Linked DNA regions of Homo sapiens: region 2 is linked to region 1. Evidence: fine-mapped expression QTL. A gene starts in region 1. The other region holds a variant in brackets. All regions are shown on one strand. Distances are between the middles of the regions. Region 1 holds the start of EVC2 (EvC ciliary complex subunit 2). Region 2 overlaps EVC (EvC ciliary complex subunit 1).

What was found.
Region 2: its variant is fine-mapped to the expression of EVC2 in fibroblasts (GTEx, PIP 0.90).

The regions. Positions count from the first base shown.
Region 1 is chr4:5,703,661-5,711,660 of GRCh38, forward strand. EVC2 (EvC ciliary complex subunit 2) reads right to left here and starts at 4,899. Exons shown (of 22, transcript NM_147127.5): 1 at 4,626-4,899. The coding sequence starts at 4,853. EVC (EvC ciliary complex subunit 1) reads left to right here and starts at 7,541. Exons shown (of 21, transcript NM_153717.3): 1 at 7,541-7,894. The coding sequence starts at 7,721. RefSeq lists enhancers at 376-425, 486-535, 4,839-5,458 and silencers at 4,519-4,898, 4,939-4,988, 7,500-7,549, 7,600-7,749.
Region 2 is chr4:5,752,187-5,760,186 of GRCh38, forward strand. It overlaps EVC (EvC ciliary complex subunit 1), which reads left to right. Exons shown (of 21, transcript NM_153717.3): 9 at 650-866; 10 at 1,599-1,747; 11 at 4,078-4,176. Among named protein-coding and RNA genes, the nearest start is that of EVC, 45 kb to the left of the region's middle. RefSeq lists enhancers at 758-1,713, 6,216-7,415, 7,084-7,133. The variant T/C (reference allele first, on the strand shown) is at 4,956.

The DNA.
Region 1 (8,000 bases):
TTTGAAAATGAGGATACGTTGACAAACGAGACATCAAAAGTTCTACTCTCAGAACACTATTTAGGAAAATTACAAGCAAAATCATAGTATACTATATATATTATACAAACAAAACAGTAACATACCATATATAGTATATTAGAAGGTGATAAGAACAGTGGAGCAAAATAAAGAAGGAAATAGGAACAGAGAGTAATGGGGGTTGCCATTTTAAATGGGGTTATGTTGAAAGGCTTTAACAGGGTGACAGAGTGGCTGTCAGGGTATCAGGGGGAGGAGCATTAGTTCAGGCAGAGGAAAGACCCGTGCAAGGGCCCTGAGGTGGGAACACACCCAGGGTGTTCAAGGAACACAAGGAGGCCAGGGTGCCTGAGCAGGGCGAGTGAGTGGTTTCTGCTCTGGGGACAATGGGAAGCCACCGTGAGCTACTCCGTGATGAGTGGCATAATAGCCATTTTAAATGGGACACTCTGGCTGCTCTGTTGAGAACAGAGAAGTACTCAAGGGGAGATGCAAGGAGGTCAGTCAGGCGGCTCCACAATAATCCCAGAGAGAAGGTGGCAATTCAGATGAAGATGGTGTTTGTAAAGAGAGTGAAAACTGTGTTGATTGTGGGTGTGTTTTGAAAATGAAACCCATGCGATATGCTGACTAAATGTGGGGCTTGGGGAGAGGGAGGAGGCAAGGAGGGTGCCAAGGCCTCTGGGCCCAGCAAGAAAAAGACAAAGGAACCACTGACAGGAAGGGAGGCAAGGGGCAGGATTTCGGTTCTGCCTTGGTGCATGAGTTGTGGAGTGCCTGTGAGCCTCCACGGGCCATGTCAGGTAGGCATGCAGATCCACGGTGGAGCTCAGAGAAGGTCTTGGCTGGAGATGGAAATTCGGGAGCTGCCAGGGGATAGATCACCAAGGGTGTGAGTACTGACAGAAGGAAGAAGAGAACCCAGCACTGAGTCCTGGGGTGCTCCGGCCATTAAAGATCAAGTGAAGCACAGATACACTCATGATCTCCATCTTTCCTGACCAAGCTCTCAGGAAGTTTTGTTTTGTTGTTGTTGTTGTTTGAGAGAGGGTCTTGTTCTGCCATCCAGGTTGGAGTGCAGTGGTGAGATCATAGCTCACTGCATCCTCGAACTCCTGGTTTCAAGCCATCTTCCTGCCTCAGCCTCCTGAAAACCTGGGAATACAGGCATGTGCTATCACACACAGCTATATATATATATATGTTTTGTAGAGATGGGGGTCTCACTATGTTTCCCAGGCTGCTTTTGAACTCCTGACCTCAAGCGATCCTCCTGACTTAGCCTCCCAAAGTGTTGGGATTACAGGCGTGAGCTTATTTGACTAATAGTTCCCTTAACTCAGAATTCCAAGGCTGCAGTTTTGAAGCTATAGTAATTACACAGTGTAACAGATAATGTTACATCATATCTGGCTGATTTTTTGTTGTTCTTTTCTACAAATCTGGGACACACCCAATCCACTGAACTTGGCATCACAACCAACCTAAATTACTGTTGTGTGGTACTTCAAGTAAAATAACGAAATGATACTATTAGCATAATGAAATGGTGAAAATGATGAAAGGATCCCATTCTGAAATAGACACTTATCTTTCAAAGGGTCTGGGTGGTTTCTTTCATCTCTAATTCTTGGGACATCAGATAGGCTTGCTACTGAGCACTGATTTCTCAGACATGTTGGTCTTGGGACTCCTTTACACATTTTCCAATTATTGAAGACTCCAAAAAACTTTTGTTTGTGCTGATTATATTTATCAACATTTACTCTCTTTAAATTAAAGGTGAGAATATTTTAAAGTGTCTAGTAATTCATTTTAAATAGGAATAACAATGCCATTGCATATTAACATAAATAGCATTTTTTTTTGAAAACTAAATAAACTAAAACTGTTTTATTTTCTAAAATAAAAAAAGTGAGAAGAATGGCATTTTTTTACATTTTTGCAAACCTCATCTATGTCTGAGTTAATGGAAGGAGCTGGATTCTCAAATCTGCTTGTACATTAAATCTGCTGCAACATCACACTTCCTGTCACCTTGGAAAACCCCATCGCACAATTGTGAGAAAATGAGTAGAAAAAGTAAGTAATACCTCAGTATTACTGTGAAAATAGCTGTGACTCCATGGACCCCTATAATGGTTCAGTGACGCCAGGGATTCCCTGGGCCCCACCTTAAGAACCACTGGGGAATAAAATGCATTCCCAGTGGGCATCAAATGATGAAATTAAAAAAGGTAAAATCCCTGCCCACAGGAACTCACAGTCCAGCAAAGGAAACAGACAAGCAGCCCAAACAATGTGGTAAATGTTCTCACCAAGAGATGTCCCAGCATCAGGGGGCCAGAGACTTGGAATATGCCAAGCTCCTCCTACATGCGGGCCACACCCATGACGATTCCTCCACTTGGGATGTTCTCTCCTGACTCCTTCCCTGGCTAAACCTGCCCATCCTTCAAGTCTTGACTGACCTTCCAGACTAAATGACCTCCTTCCTCCACCCTCTCTCACGGCTCCCCATCCTCCTCCTCACAGCAATCACTGTGTGCAATTAGGCATTGGTCTCCCAGCCCCCTGCACACAGCATGGGACTTAGCAAAGGTGCAATAAATATAGATAGATACATAGATAGATAGATACATAGATAGATAGATAGATACATAGATAGATAGACACATAGATAGATACATAGATAGATACATAGATAGATACATAGATAGATAGATAGATACATAGATAGATAGATACATAGATAGATAGATAGATACATACATACATACATACATACATACATAGATAATATTGAATGAATGGATGGATAGATGGTATCAAGTAATTACATGAAGGCATCATATAATTACAATAGGAAGAACTAACCTGTGCCTTCGGGAACTGTGCTCTGGGAACAGCCCTTACACCATTGCTCAGAAGAGGAAGCAGAGACCCTGAGGGCTGTGACTTGTCCCAGGCCCCACAAGAGGGAGTGGCCAAGGCAGGGACACACATGGCCAGAGCTCTTTCCTGTACAGTGTGCAGAAGGGCTATGCAAGACAGGCCCAGAGAGACGGAAGAAGGCTGGTCCCATCAACAGCTGGGATGGGCGTGGGCAGGGCCAGGGCCCAGGGGACGTGCTCAAGATGCCAAGGGCACCTGAATACAGGTGCTCATTCCCAGATTCCTGCAAAGGCAGGGGTTGCCCTTGAGGGTGAGGTACTCTACACCCACCATGGTCCTAGATGGCTTCAGGCCCTTCCCAGTAGGCACCGTCCCTCCCTTCTGGCAGGGACCACCCTCAACACCACTGTGGCTGACAGAGGCCAATGTGCACCAGGATTTCTGACACTGGCTTCCCAGAAGGAAGAGCTTGTGCAAAGCAGGTGAGGCCAGGCACGCAGGCTCTGAACTCGGGGGCCAGAGAGAGAGTACAGGACAGGCCTGGGGACGCGGCTCCCTGAGCCTTGGTTTTGTCACCTGCAAAACGGGCCAGATACTCCCATCTCACAGGGCAGATGCAAGTGAAAGGACCCAGGGAACATGTTCTGTCATTGGACTTTTGAAAGCTCAGGACACTGACATGGCGTTTTTCCAGTGAAAACCTAAAGACAGAAAGGGAGCAGGGTCTCTTTTAAGAGACTAAACCTCTGCCAGTGTCGCAAGTGTCCTGGGGTAGAGAACACAGCAGGACACGACCCACCACCCTAGGAGAGAGGTGGGAGGACCTCAGGGCAGCATCAATGGGCCAGACCATTGGCCAGGGCAGTCCTGGGAATAGGAGCCTGGGTGTGCTGTCAGGGGCAATAAGGTGGAGAGAAGAGTGCCAGCATGGGACAGGAGTGGCAGAATGTCTACCAGGACAGACCACCCCAGAGGTCTGGGGGAAAATGGATGGGAGACGTGGGAAAACCATCACCAAGGGCTGGAAGTGAAGTGGTGGGACCTGAAGCCAGGGAGTGGCAGTGGGGAGTGAGGAGGGGCAGACATCCGAGCTGATTTGGAGGAAAAGGCACTAGGACTGGTGACCAGCTTTGTCGGGGGAGGTCAAGTCTAGGGCTACAGCCAGGGATCCATGCCTTTCGAGTTTAGGACCACAGAGGGAGGGCCAGGGTGAAGTAGGAAGTGGCTAAATCCATCAGCCAGGAGAGTTCAGTCACCTAAGAGTCCAGCCAAGAGCCCCCACTTTTAAAAACCGCTGCAATTTCCCAGTGCTGGCCTCTGCAAGGGGCTCTGCATATGTGAGCTCATCTAACCCACTTCCACCCTCTGGGGTGGACGCCGCGACGGCCCCGTTTCAACGATCAGGAAACTGGGGCACAGGAGTGAACTGCCCTAGGTCGAAGCTCGTAAAATGGAGAGCAGGATTCGAACCAGGGTCGCTGGTGAAGTCCAAGCCGGCAGCTGCCACACCCCGAGGAAGGTCTCCAGTTTCCCTCGAAGCTTTCTGGCCGTGAGCGGGATACACCTAAGGGCCGCGAAGCACCCTATTCAGATCCTGCCCTCCCTTCCTCATTCTTTGCGAAATACTAAGGGTCCTCCCTGCCACCGCCGGTGTAGACAAAGTCAAACCACTACAGTCAGACCGGAGCCTGGGGTCGGGCCCTCCTTACCTGCGTGCTGCTCTCGGGCCCCGCCCCGCTCCGCCCCGGAGGGATCCTCAGGCCGGGCCCAGACCTAGGAGCCACCTGGGGATCCCGGGGTGGCTGCGCGCCGAGGGGGCGCCAGCGGGGACGTGAGCTGGCGCCGAGACAGCCTCGGCCCCCCAGCGCCAGGGCCACTGCCAGGAGACCCCCGGCCAGCACCCACGTGGGGCGCCCCCGGGAGCCCGAGGGGTCCATCGCCTGTCGGGACCCGCTACCTCAAAGCGGCGGGTGCCGCCGAGTCGCTGGAGCTTCCGGACCCCAGGCCCGCCCCGCCGCCGAGCATGCTCAGTGCGAGCCGCCGCCGAAAGTTTTCTGGAACAAACACCCGCATCTGGGGCTTGGCGGGCCAGGAGGTGCCGGACGGGCGTGGGAGGGGGAGAGCGAGTTGGCGCGGCCCAGGCGCCCGGCGGCCAGGCCTGGGTTTGCTTGCGCCCAAACCGAATCAGAGCGGGTCACTCCCCTGCTCCCCGAGGTTACCAGGACCCCAAGGGCCCCTCCGCTACCGCCTACCTGGGTCTGTAAGCCTCAGCTCAGACGCACTTCCCCTGGGAACGGTTTCCTGACACACGGATGTGAATCCAGAGTTTCCCCATCCCCGCTTAGAAAACGGAGAAGCATTTGGAGCGCGGGGCCGGGAGTCCTGGAGCACCCAGAAGGTTCAGGAAAGCTCGGGGAGGAGGGGGTGGCCGCAGAGAAGGAAAAGGACCCTCACTTCCGGTTGCGTTCAGTGCAGACCAGCTGAGCACCCACTGCCCGAGCCTGCTGTGGGTCAGCCCTGGGCCGGCCCGGGTGCCCCTCGCATTCCCAGTGGGAAACAGGCCAGCCGCTGGGCCACCTCTCTGGGGACCTAGAAAGAGGGGAGCTGGTGTCTGAAGTCGCAGCCCTAAGCAAGCTCTCCCTGAACTCTCCGAGGGGACAGGGATTTGCTTTGCCAAGGGACGCAGGAGGAGGAGGAGGAGAAAGACACAAAAAGGGGGACTGGTGGAGCCTTTTGTGTGCTTCCTCATCCCTGCCTAGGTCCTGGGTGACAGCTGACACCTGTTGACGGGGGAGGGCTCCACTCCCGCCAGCCTTCCTGCGGGGCAGGCTGTTAGGCTGTCTATAAAGTCTCAGGCCAGCGAGCCTGGCCCCTGGCAGCCTCTCTCCCCATAACCCAGACCATCCAAGGACAGGCCTTTCCTGACCTAACATGGACAAGGCCATGGGGTTCGAGAAGCTGAGAATTTATAAGCCAAGTTCCCCACACCAGGGGGTACGTGGCAGCTGTCAGGCATGTGACAAGACCACAGGCTAAATGCCAAGCATGTTGCTGGACCGTTGGAGTTGTTTGACAGTCAGTCATTTAAAGGTTAATTTAATAGTCAACAACTTTATGATAAAGTAAAAAGCAAATAACCCTACATTTAAAAAATCTCCTTAGTATTTTTTATGGAGTCAGGGTCTCACTATGTTGCCAAGACTGGTCTTAAACTCCTGGGCTCAGACAATCCTCCACTTGAGCCTCCCAAAGTGCTGGGATTACAGGCGTGAGCAACCACACCTGGCCCAAACACCACATTTTAAAAACTAAAGCCTAAGCATTCATGGAAATGTAAAACAAGAGCGTCAAGTTATTGCCCCCATACATGTCCCCAGGAACCTTGGAGATGCTTCTAAGGTAATATATAAGAAGCTCCACATAGCAGAGAGTTTGCCCTGAAGCCAGACACAGGTGTAAATGAGACAAGAATTCTGCCCCACTCCTTAATTGCAAATGAGTCACCTCTCCTCTCCAGCTGTCAGTTTCTTCATTTATTAAAAAAAGATGAAGAATTTGGATAACAGTTCCCATCTTGCCATGAGGAAATGATGAAACAAACTAGAAACAAGCTGGACATCTAGGCTGAAAGGACAAAGCCCTCCTCTGCTGAAGCAGATCCCCATGGTGTCCCCTAGCCCGGCCCACACAGGGAATTAAGCTCCACAGGGTAGGTGTGTGTGTGTGTGTGCCCCTGAGTGCAAGTGTGCAGTCGTGCATGTGCATGTGTGCTTTACCCAGGCACCCAGGACAAAAGCAAACATCTAGTAGCTACCCCATAAATGTTTGTTTAAAGCAAACACAGTGATGAACTCCTTTAATTTTTTATCACTCTAAACAACTGTGAGATACTCACTAGCCTGGACACTGCCTGGTTTGTGGCTGGCCTATCCCCCAGCCTGCAACACACACACAACAGATTCTCTCCAAGTGCTGAGTAAATGAAGGATGGTGCAGTGTCCTGGTCCTAGTGGGGAGCGGGTGTAAGGGTCTCTTTATCCATTGTCTCAGTGGGGAGTGGGTGTAAGGGTCTCTCTACCCTTGGTCCTAGTGGGGACTAGGTGTAAGGGTCTCTCTACCCATCGTCTCAGTGGGGTCTGGGTGTAAGGATCCCTTTACCCATCCTCCTAGTGGAGACTGAGTGTAACGGTGTCTCCACCCATTGTCTCGACCTTCCCTGGGACAAAATAAGATTAAAACAGGAGTCTTCGCGTGAGCAAGTTCAGAGGCGTGGAGGGCGGTGTGTTCCCGGGAAGGTTGATGGGTAGAGGTTAGGGGCAAGGGCAGGGGGTTGGAATTGCATTGATCCCAGCGTCTTCATCAGGAGGATGGGCGGAGCACCCACCGCAGAGGGTTATTGAGAAAGTTAATGAGATCATTAAGCTAAATGCGTAGCATATTCTAAGCCTCAAAAAACTTAAAGGAGCCTTCTAAGCCTCAGTAAAGTTAAAGGGGTGGAAACCGGGCCCCCCTCCGGAAGGGTCCGGGGCTGGGAGGCGCGTCTGTCTCTGGGCATGCTCAGTGCAGGGGCAGGGCTGGGGCGGGGGTGGCTGAAAGTTTTGAGCGGTGATCCAGGCTCCTCCCTCCGGCTCGGCGAAGCAGGGAAGGGGAGAGAAGCAGGAGTCGGGAGACTGCACAGGCCAGAAAGTCTGCGGAGCGGGCCGCGCCCCTGGCCCGCCCGGGCTCCAAGTCCCGCGTCGCCGCCCTGGCGGGGACGGTGCAGCAGGCGGCGGGATGCGGCGGGGCGGCAGCCTGAGCGCCCCGGATGGCCCGCGGCGGGGCGGCCTGCAAGAGCGACGCGCGGCTGCTGCTGGGGCGGGACGCGCTGCGGCCGGCGCCCGCCCTGCTGGCCCCCGCCGTGCTGCTGGGCGCCGCGCTCGGCCTCGGCCTCGGCCTTTGGCTTGGCTGCCGCGCGGGCCGCCAGCGCACGCGACACCAGGTGGGTCGGCCGAGCAGACAGCGGCGGGGCGGGGAGCGCGGGGCGCGTGGCTTCTGGGTCCTGCGGGCCCGGAGCCCCGGCTCTGCGACTCCTTGAGCCTGGTTGG
Region 2 (8,000 bases), 49 kb after region 1:
GCTCCTCCTTTCCCCCTTACTCTCATTCCACAAGCAGCTGCTCTCAGGTGTGCAGGGCCCTTGGCTGCCTCCGGTTGACATTTCCCCCTGTCTTTTCTGAGAGTCCCTGAAATGATGAGGTGGGGCTGGGGAGGGCCTTCTGTAGAATCTGACTGCGGGGAGTCGTGTTGGAAGCCAATCATTCCCCTGAAAATCTCGGCCGTCCTCAGCAGTCAGGCTCTCTGGGGCTCTAACAAAAGCCAGGAACTGCTGGCACTTTGCATTTCCTCCACAGCCCTGTGGGGGCCACAGGGCCAGATTGGCCGGGGGAGATGACTATAAGCCAGGTGGCTTTTCCTCCTTGACCGTTTGTAAATCTGGATTCCCTCCTAGGAGGGTGGCCCTCTGGGGAGCGCTACTGGTGACTAAGTGCCTACATGCTAAGCTGCGTCAGCCTCCCCGCACCCTAGGAGAGACACTTAATCCCCACCTCGGGGGCAGACGCAGATCTCGCTCATGAAGGAGAGGGGGAGTTCATCCCTCTGAGCTCCGCTCTCCCAGGCAGTGCCATTAGTTAATGACCCTGGTGGCTTCTTCTCAGCTGTTAATTAACATGCCCTGGTGGTTCCCAGGACACCCCAGCTATGGTCCTGTGTGTTTCTTTTTGCAGGACGCCCTGGAGAGGACGATGGGGCGGGCGCACATGGCAAAAGTGATTGAGTTTCTGAAGCTGCAAGTCCAGGAGGAGACCAGGTGCCGGCTGGCTGCCATCTCCCACGGCCTGGAGCTGCTGGCTGGTGAGGGGAAGCTGTCCGGGCGGCAGAAGGAGGAGCTGCTCACGCAGCAGCACAAGGCCTTCTGGCAGGAGGCAGAGCGCTTCAGCCGGGGTGAGCCGTGGGCATGGGTGCCGCCGTCCACAACACTGGCCTTCTGGGTCCCTGGGGCTGTGCAGTGAGAGGGCTGGCAGCCTGGGGCAGTGTGCCCATGATGCCGGGCACAGGCTGCCTTTCTGCTTCTGCCCTAGGGACTGGGTCACTGGGCTGCTCTCTGGGGCTCTCTTCCCTTCTCTGTACAGCAGAGTCCATGAGGGCCACTGCCCAGGGCAGGGGTCACCTGCTGCACTCACTCACCAGGGATTCCGGCTGATTGAGTCCCCACGTCCTGCAGCAAAGCCACCAGGAACTGCAGAGGGACAGAGGAGGGTGAAGGGTCTCACTAGAAATTTACACAAAGTGGTCCCTGTCGCCCAGCGGCAGCTCATGGTCATGCTGGAGTCATGTGGCCCTGCTCAGCGGCAGAGTGGGTGAGGGTGGGCCATGGTCCAGCATGTGGGGCAGGAAGGGGAGCCGTGCATGTGTCCCACACATGCTCCTGCCCCAAGGCTGACCCTGGGGTGGGGGTGGGGCAAGGCTCAAGACGTGGAGGCATCTGGGCTTAGCTGAGGTCACACTACTAGTGGGACCTACAGAAAAACCCAGGTGTGTCACCAGCAGGGCGGGCACCATCTCTGCAGCCGACACCAGCTTCCCCAACCTCCAGACAGGAGAAAGCATGAGGGTCCCCACTGAAATTCTGGCTCACAGAGTCACCTCCTATGCTGTGGCTTTTTTCAATCCCAGAGTTTGTCCAGCGAGGCAAAGACCTGGTCACGGCGTCTCTGGCTCACCAGGTGGAGGGAACGGCAAAACTCACGCTGGCCCAAGAGGAGGAACAGAGAAGCTTCCTGGCTGAGGCCCAGCCGACTGCTGACCCGGAAAAGTTTCTCGAGGTGACTCACATCCCCAGCCTCTGCACATGTGGGTGAGCCAGTTGTAGCTCTGTTCCCGTGACTGAGCACGGGACGCCGGAGGTATTCATCAGGCATGAGGTTATCTGCCTACTTCCCATGTGTCAGCCGAGTGACCGAATCTCAGTCCCTTAGCCCCTACATCCCTAGGGTCCTAGTGGACTGTAAGCTGGTGATAAGAGTTGTGCTGCCCTCACTGGGCTGCTGAGAAGAGGAGGGGGTAGGATCCGTAGAGAGCTTGGCAGAGTGCAGACGCATGGCAGGAGCACACAGATGGTGGCAATGGCGTGAAGGGAGCAATGTGTGGCCCAGAGGGGACAAGCATGTCCCGGAGAGTAAGGCAGGCTCACACACCCAGGGACAGGGCCCTTGTGGGTCGGCTGCAAGTCCAGGAGAAGGAAGGGAGTTCCCAGCCTTGCATGTGGGGTTGAGTGGTCAGGGCCAGGAGGTGGCCAAGGTCAGAGGTACCCTTGGTCTTGCCTGAGAAGGGGACAAGAAGACCTGAAGGAGGACAAAAAGCAAGATGTCACCCTCCAAGGAAAAGGAGTCAGCTGGCCCCAGTGCAGGCTCTAAGGACCTGGACTCGCCAGTTCTCAGAGAGACCACCGAGCTCTGGTTTCGCTCTGCTTGCTTTCACTAGTAATGGGCAGTGGGGCTGGGAGAGGACCAGCTTGTCCGTAACCGTCTTGCAGGCTGGTTAAGCATTGGGCGCTGAGGCCAGCCACACTTGGGTTTGGGTGCTGACTCTGCCACTAAATAGCTGGGTGACCTTGGGCATGTTGCTTACCCTCTGGCCCTCAGCTTCCACATCTGTGAAATGGGCATAATGGCACCTATATCACAGCATTGTTAGGATTCAGTGAGACCAAGGAAGGGGCAGCCCCAGCCTCACTGTTTGCCTGGGTCCGCCTGCCCTCCGTCAACACTTGGTACAGCACATCTCAGTTCTGCCAAGGGGTGGGTGGCACCATGTCTGGGTCCAGGCTCAGCCCAGAATAGAGGCCCAGGGGCTCTCCCTGGGGGCCAAGCTGGTGGTGGTGGCACCACTGCAGTGAGAAGCCAATGGAGGGGTCCCCCGAGAACAGAGGACAGGCCTCTAGGTCCCTGGTCCAGCTGCCTCCCTCACCCAGGGGGCCTCTTCCAGGCCCATACTTGGAGCTTCTGCATTTGCCACAAAGGGGTAGGGTAGGTTTTTCTATCTTTGAGACCCATTTGAAATAAGAGGAAGATAAGGCTATTCAGCTCCTCGTTATTTGGATATTTCTGGGCCCCTGTCCTTGATGTCACAGAGCCCAGTGTGAGTCCAGAGTGTGGAGACAGTGCCTGGGTGACCTTGGTGTCCCAGGGCCTCGGTACAGTCCTCGGAACGCCTCAGCGCTGGCGTTCAGGACACGTGGGACGCAGGCAGGGAAGGGTGAATGAGCGCATGCGTGCCTGAATGAACCAGGACATGGACAAATGGGCAAACGAGCGAATGAAGGAGGATGGAATGGGTGGGAGAATGAACGAACGACACCAGGCTCCCAGTACACACTCAGCACCCACCTTTTTCCAGTCCCGCCCTTCTCTCTCATCTCACCTCCTGCCCGTAGCATCACCAAAGATCTTAGGGGGTTTACCTCCTGGTCTCTGCTGCTGCTCGCTGAGCCTGGCTCCCCATCTTCCCTCCAAGGAGTCCTTCCTTGTCCTTAGAGACTCCATTGAAACATCTCCCCAACAGGGAATTTTCTCCTGCAACCCTTCCCTGAGAAGGGTCTGTTCCTCTGTCCTTCTGCCCCACCTCGCCCCTCGCTGATGCTCTGTTTAGGGCTGGCTGGGTCTCCCCCTGCTGATGCCCGGGTTAGCCCAGTCTCCTGCTGCTCTGCTGGGGTCCTCAGGGAAGGGCCTCCACCCCGTGGTCACAGTGGGGCCTGGCTGGTTGCTGACTGCACTGACCTCCAATCGCCAGTCTGTGTCACCCCTGCTGGGTTCCCATCAGTGGGTCTTCCATGGCCTGGGTGGTCAGAAAGTGATGTCTGGGTGGCTGCAGCCAGGACAGAGGAGTGACAGAAGTGGTCCAGTGGCCCCTCCTCATCCTGGCTTTAACAAAAGCGTGGTGGTTTGTGGTGTTTCCTGGAAATCGGATTTGCTGACCCTGGCATCAGCTGTGAAAGCCATGTGACAGCCCCATGCCTCAGTTTCCTTGTGTGTAATACAGGTGCCAACATCCTTCTTTCTAACCTGAGATGCAGGGGATGGTTGGAGAACCTTCTGGAAAAAAAAAAAAAAACCCTGCATGTTTCTACCAGACTCAGCTCTTGTTTTCCTCACAGGCTTTTCATGAGGTCCTGGAGAGGCAGAGGCTGATGCAGTGTGACCTGGAGGAAGAGGAGAATGTCAGAGCCACCGAGGCTGTGGTTGCACTCTGCCAGGTACATGGCCTCTGTGGGGACCAGCAGAGAAGCCCCAGGGTCTGTGTGTGTGCGAGAACCTCACATCCTCCTGGCTGGGGACCCCAGAGGTGGTTCAGGTCCAACCCCGCACTCATTGGCCGGTGATCCACGCAGGCTGTGTCCCCTCCATGCGATCCTCCTTGCCCACATCAGAAACCGAGGCAGTTGGCCTTGGTCCTCTCTGAGGCACCGTCCATTTTTGGGGTGCTGAGGATTCTTATCTCCACACATCCCTGTCAGCAAAGCTCTTTGGAAATCCGTTCTCCCCAGGTGAGAAATAGGCCCAGGGTTTCTGGGTGTCATCAGTGTAAAGTGGTGATGAAGAAGGGGTTCTGGGCTGAAATGGGGACGTCAGAGATCACATGCCACACCACCTCTTTCCCCTGTGCAACCGTGTGCAGGTCTGGGGTGGGGAGGTGAAGCTGGCCATGCTTGCCCTGCAGGGTGACTTTCAGAGAGCAGGAGAGGGCACCTGAGCCCTCTTTAGGGGCAGGAGTCACAGGATGCCATGCTGAGCCAGACAGAGCCCCTGCCTCAGGCAGCATCCTCAGTTGTTGGAAAGACAGGAGTGTGGACACCTGGCTATGAAGGAATCAACCAGTGGGTGTTGGGCAGCACTGGGAGGAGGAGAGGGCCTGGGTCTGTGTCCTGGCTCCCCGCTTCCTCACTGCGTGACCACAGGAGCATCACTTGGCCTCTAGCCCTCAGTTTCCCCATCTGTGAAATGGGGACAGTCATAATTCTTCTTCATGGTGTGC[T/C]AGGAGGACTGTGTTTGGGGACCCGAGACAGCAGCTGGCACTCGGAACACCCCAGGGCACGTTGTCTCCAGTGACAGCTTCCCTGCTTCTGAGTGCAGAGGAGAGGCAAGGGGCTCCTGGGTGAAGGTGACGTCAAGGACAGCAGCCTGTAGGAGGCATTGCTGAGCCAAGCATTGGATGAGACCAGGCCCAAGTGGACAAGGAGTCAGCGGGCATCCCCATCAGGGAGAAGCTCATGCAGTGGTGGGAAGTGCAACTCCTCACCCGGATGGGAGCTGCACTGGGGTCAGTCATGTCTCTGTTAACCTGCTAGGGCTGCCGTGGTGAATACCACTGACTGGTGGGTTAAACAACAGAAAAGCGTTCTCTCAAGGTTCTGGAGGCTGAAGCCCGAGATCACGGTGCCAACAGGATTGACTTCTGGTGAGGCCTCTCTTCCGGGCTTGCAGACAGCTGCCTTCCCGTTGCCTCCTCACACGGTTATTTCTCTGTGCTTGGAAGACTGAAGGGCAGGGGAGAGAATGAAAGAGAGGGCTCTGGTCTCTCCCTTTTCTTATAAGGACACCAGTTCTATGGGATTAGGGCCCCACCCTGATGACCTCATCTAACCTTAATTACCTCCTTAAAGGCCCTGTCTCCAAATACAGCCACATGGGATATTGGAGGTTAGAGCTTCAACATAAGAATTTGATTACTTAATTACCTCCAAATACAGTCACATGGGATATTGGAGGTTAGGGCTTCAACCTAAGAATTTTGGAGGGAGACACAATTTAGTCCAAACAGTGTCCTTCAAAACGTCATGTCCATCTGGAACCTCGGAATGTGGCCACACTTGGAAATAAGGGCTTTGCAGATGTAATTGGTTAGATCGCACAGTTGGTTAGGTCCTACTGGATTCGGGTGGGCCCTAATTCTAATGGCTGGTGTCCTTATAAGAAGGCCATGAGAAGACATAGAGACACAGGGAAGGAGGCTGTTTGAAGACAGAAGGAGGGACTGGAGTGATGCAGCCACAAGCCGAGGAACACCTGCAGCCACCAAAAGCCAGAAGAGCCCAGGAAGGGCCCCTCCCAGAGCCTTTGGAGGGGGCGAGGCTCTGCCAACACCTTGGTTTCATACTAATGCCCTCCGGAACGGTGAGAGAATAAACTTCGTTGTCTTAATGCACCCAGTTTGCGGCGCTTTGTCATGGCAGCCACAGGAAACTAAACGGAAGGCGATCTTTGTTCAGGGCTAGCTCCTATCTTAAGTGCCTCTTGAGTATTTGATTATTTAATTCTCATGAGATTCATGAGGAAGACACTGCATTTTCCTTCCTTCCCAGATGAGGAGTGAAGAAGTGTTTTCTCCAGAAATGGGTAGGATGGGGCTCAATTTGTCAAAGCCCTGGGGCCCACAGACAGGAAAGGAACAACTTTGTCCCCAGAGGAGTCAAGACTCACATCCCTGGCTGGGCATGGGGAAACCAAGTTCTAATCTTCCTCTGAGTGCTAACATGCTGTGTGACCTTGGCTGGTTACATAACCTGTCTGTGCTGGCCCATGTATCTTGCCCAGGTTTTACACAGCTAGCAAGCGGGGAAGGTGAGATTTAAAATAAAGGCTTTCTAATGTTAGTGCTGATGTGCTCACCCCAACCATGCTGCTCAGTGTTGACGGCTGTTGTGAAACCTCGCTTCTTGTGTTTTTAGTTTAAAAGTATGTAAACAAGAGACCACAGTAAAGGGGATGCAGCACAGAGCAATTTATTGCAAAGGAGAAAGAATGTTCTGAAAGTTAGGTGCAGAATAGACAGGATGCCCTGGGAGATGATTCAGAGCAGATGAGACAGCCTTGACTTACCGGGGAAACTCCCTTTCTGGGGAGTCTTATGTGATTATTCATAAGGGCGTGGGAAGAAGCATTATTAGTAAGCATGTTGTGGAGGGCGGTGGGGGCGGGTCCTCTGAGTGCCCAGGCACAGTAGCTGTACACACTTGTTCATACGTCACATGTCTCATTAGCATCTTAAGTCTCCGTCCAAAGGTGTGTTTTTTACTATTATAATGGCGCAGAGGGTCAGTCTGAGGACAGATAAAATCAAAGTGCACCTGCCGACTGCAGGAGACGTTGCCTACTGCAGATAACTGCTTGAAAGAGCCAGACTACAGTGTAAATGCTGAGGCTTACTGTGTTGATGGTTTGGTCGCCGCATCCCAAGGACATGGTCACTTCCTTGACTACCTATCCTGCCTTACGTGTGGGCTGTGGAGCATAATGGTGAAGCCCAGGCTCTGGAGCCAGACATCTGGGGTTCAAATTCCCAGCCGGGCCACTTATTTCCCCTGCCGGAGGTGAGCCCAGGTGGCCCAGAGGCTATGGGCGGCGGGGGTGGTTTCAGCAGCATTCTCCTCCTCACCCCCTATGGTAGCTTATTGGATTCTCACCCATCCTCTCTAAAGCAGTTCTCAAACCTTGCTGTGCATCAGAATGTCATCAAGATTAAGGAAATTGAGGTACAGGTTAGATCACTTGCTCACAATTACACAACCAGGCTGACAGCCTGAGTAAAACCCTATCAATGATTGCTGCAAAGGGTAAGCCAAGCAGTATATAAATGTAAACCCAGAACATCTGAGACGGGTCTCAGTTCATTTAGAAAGTTTATTTTGCCAAGGTTGAGGCTGCGCGAGCCTGGGACACAGCCTCAGGAGGGCGCGTCCTGACGACACGCGCCCAAGGGGGTCCGGACACAGCGTGGTTTTATACATTTTAGGGAGACAGGAGACATCAATCGGTACATGTAAGAAGTACATTGGTTCGGTCAGGAAAGGTGGGACAACTTGAAGCAAAGACAGGAAGACTCCAAGCGGGAAGTGGGCTTCCAAATCACAGGTAGGCAAGAGATAAACAGTTGCATTCTTTTGAGTTTCTGATTATCCTTTCCAAAGGAGGCAATCAGATCTGCATTTATCTCAATGAGCAGAGAGATAACTGTGAATAGATGGGAGGCAGGTTTGCCCTGAGCAGTTTTCAGCTTGAGTTTTCCTTTTTGCTTAGTGAT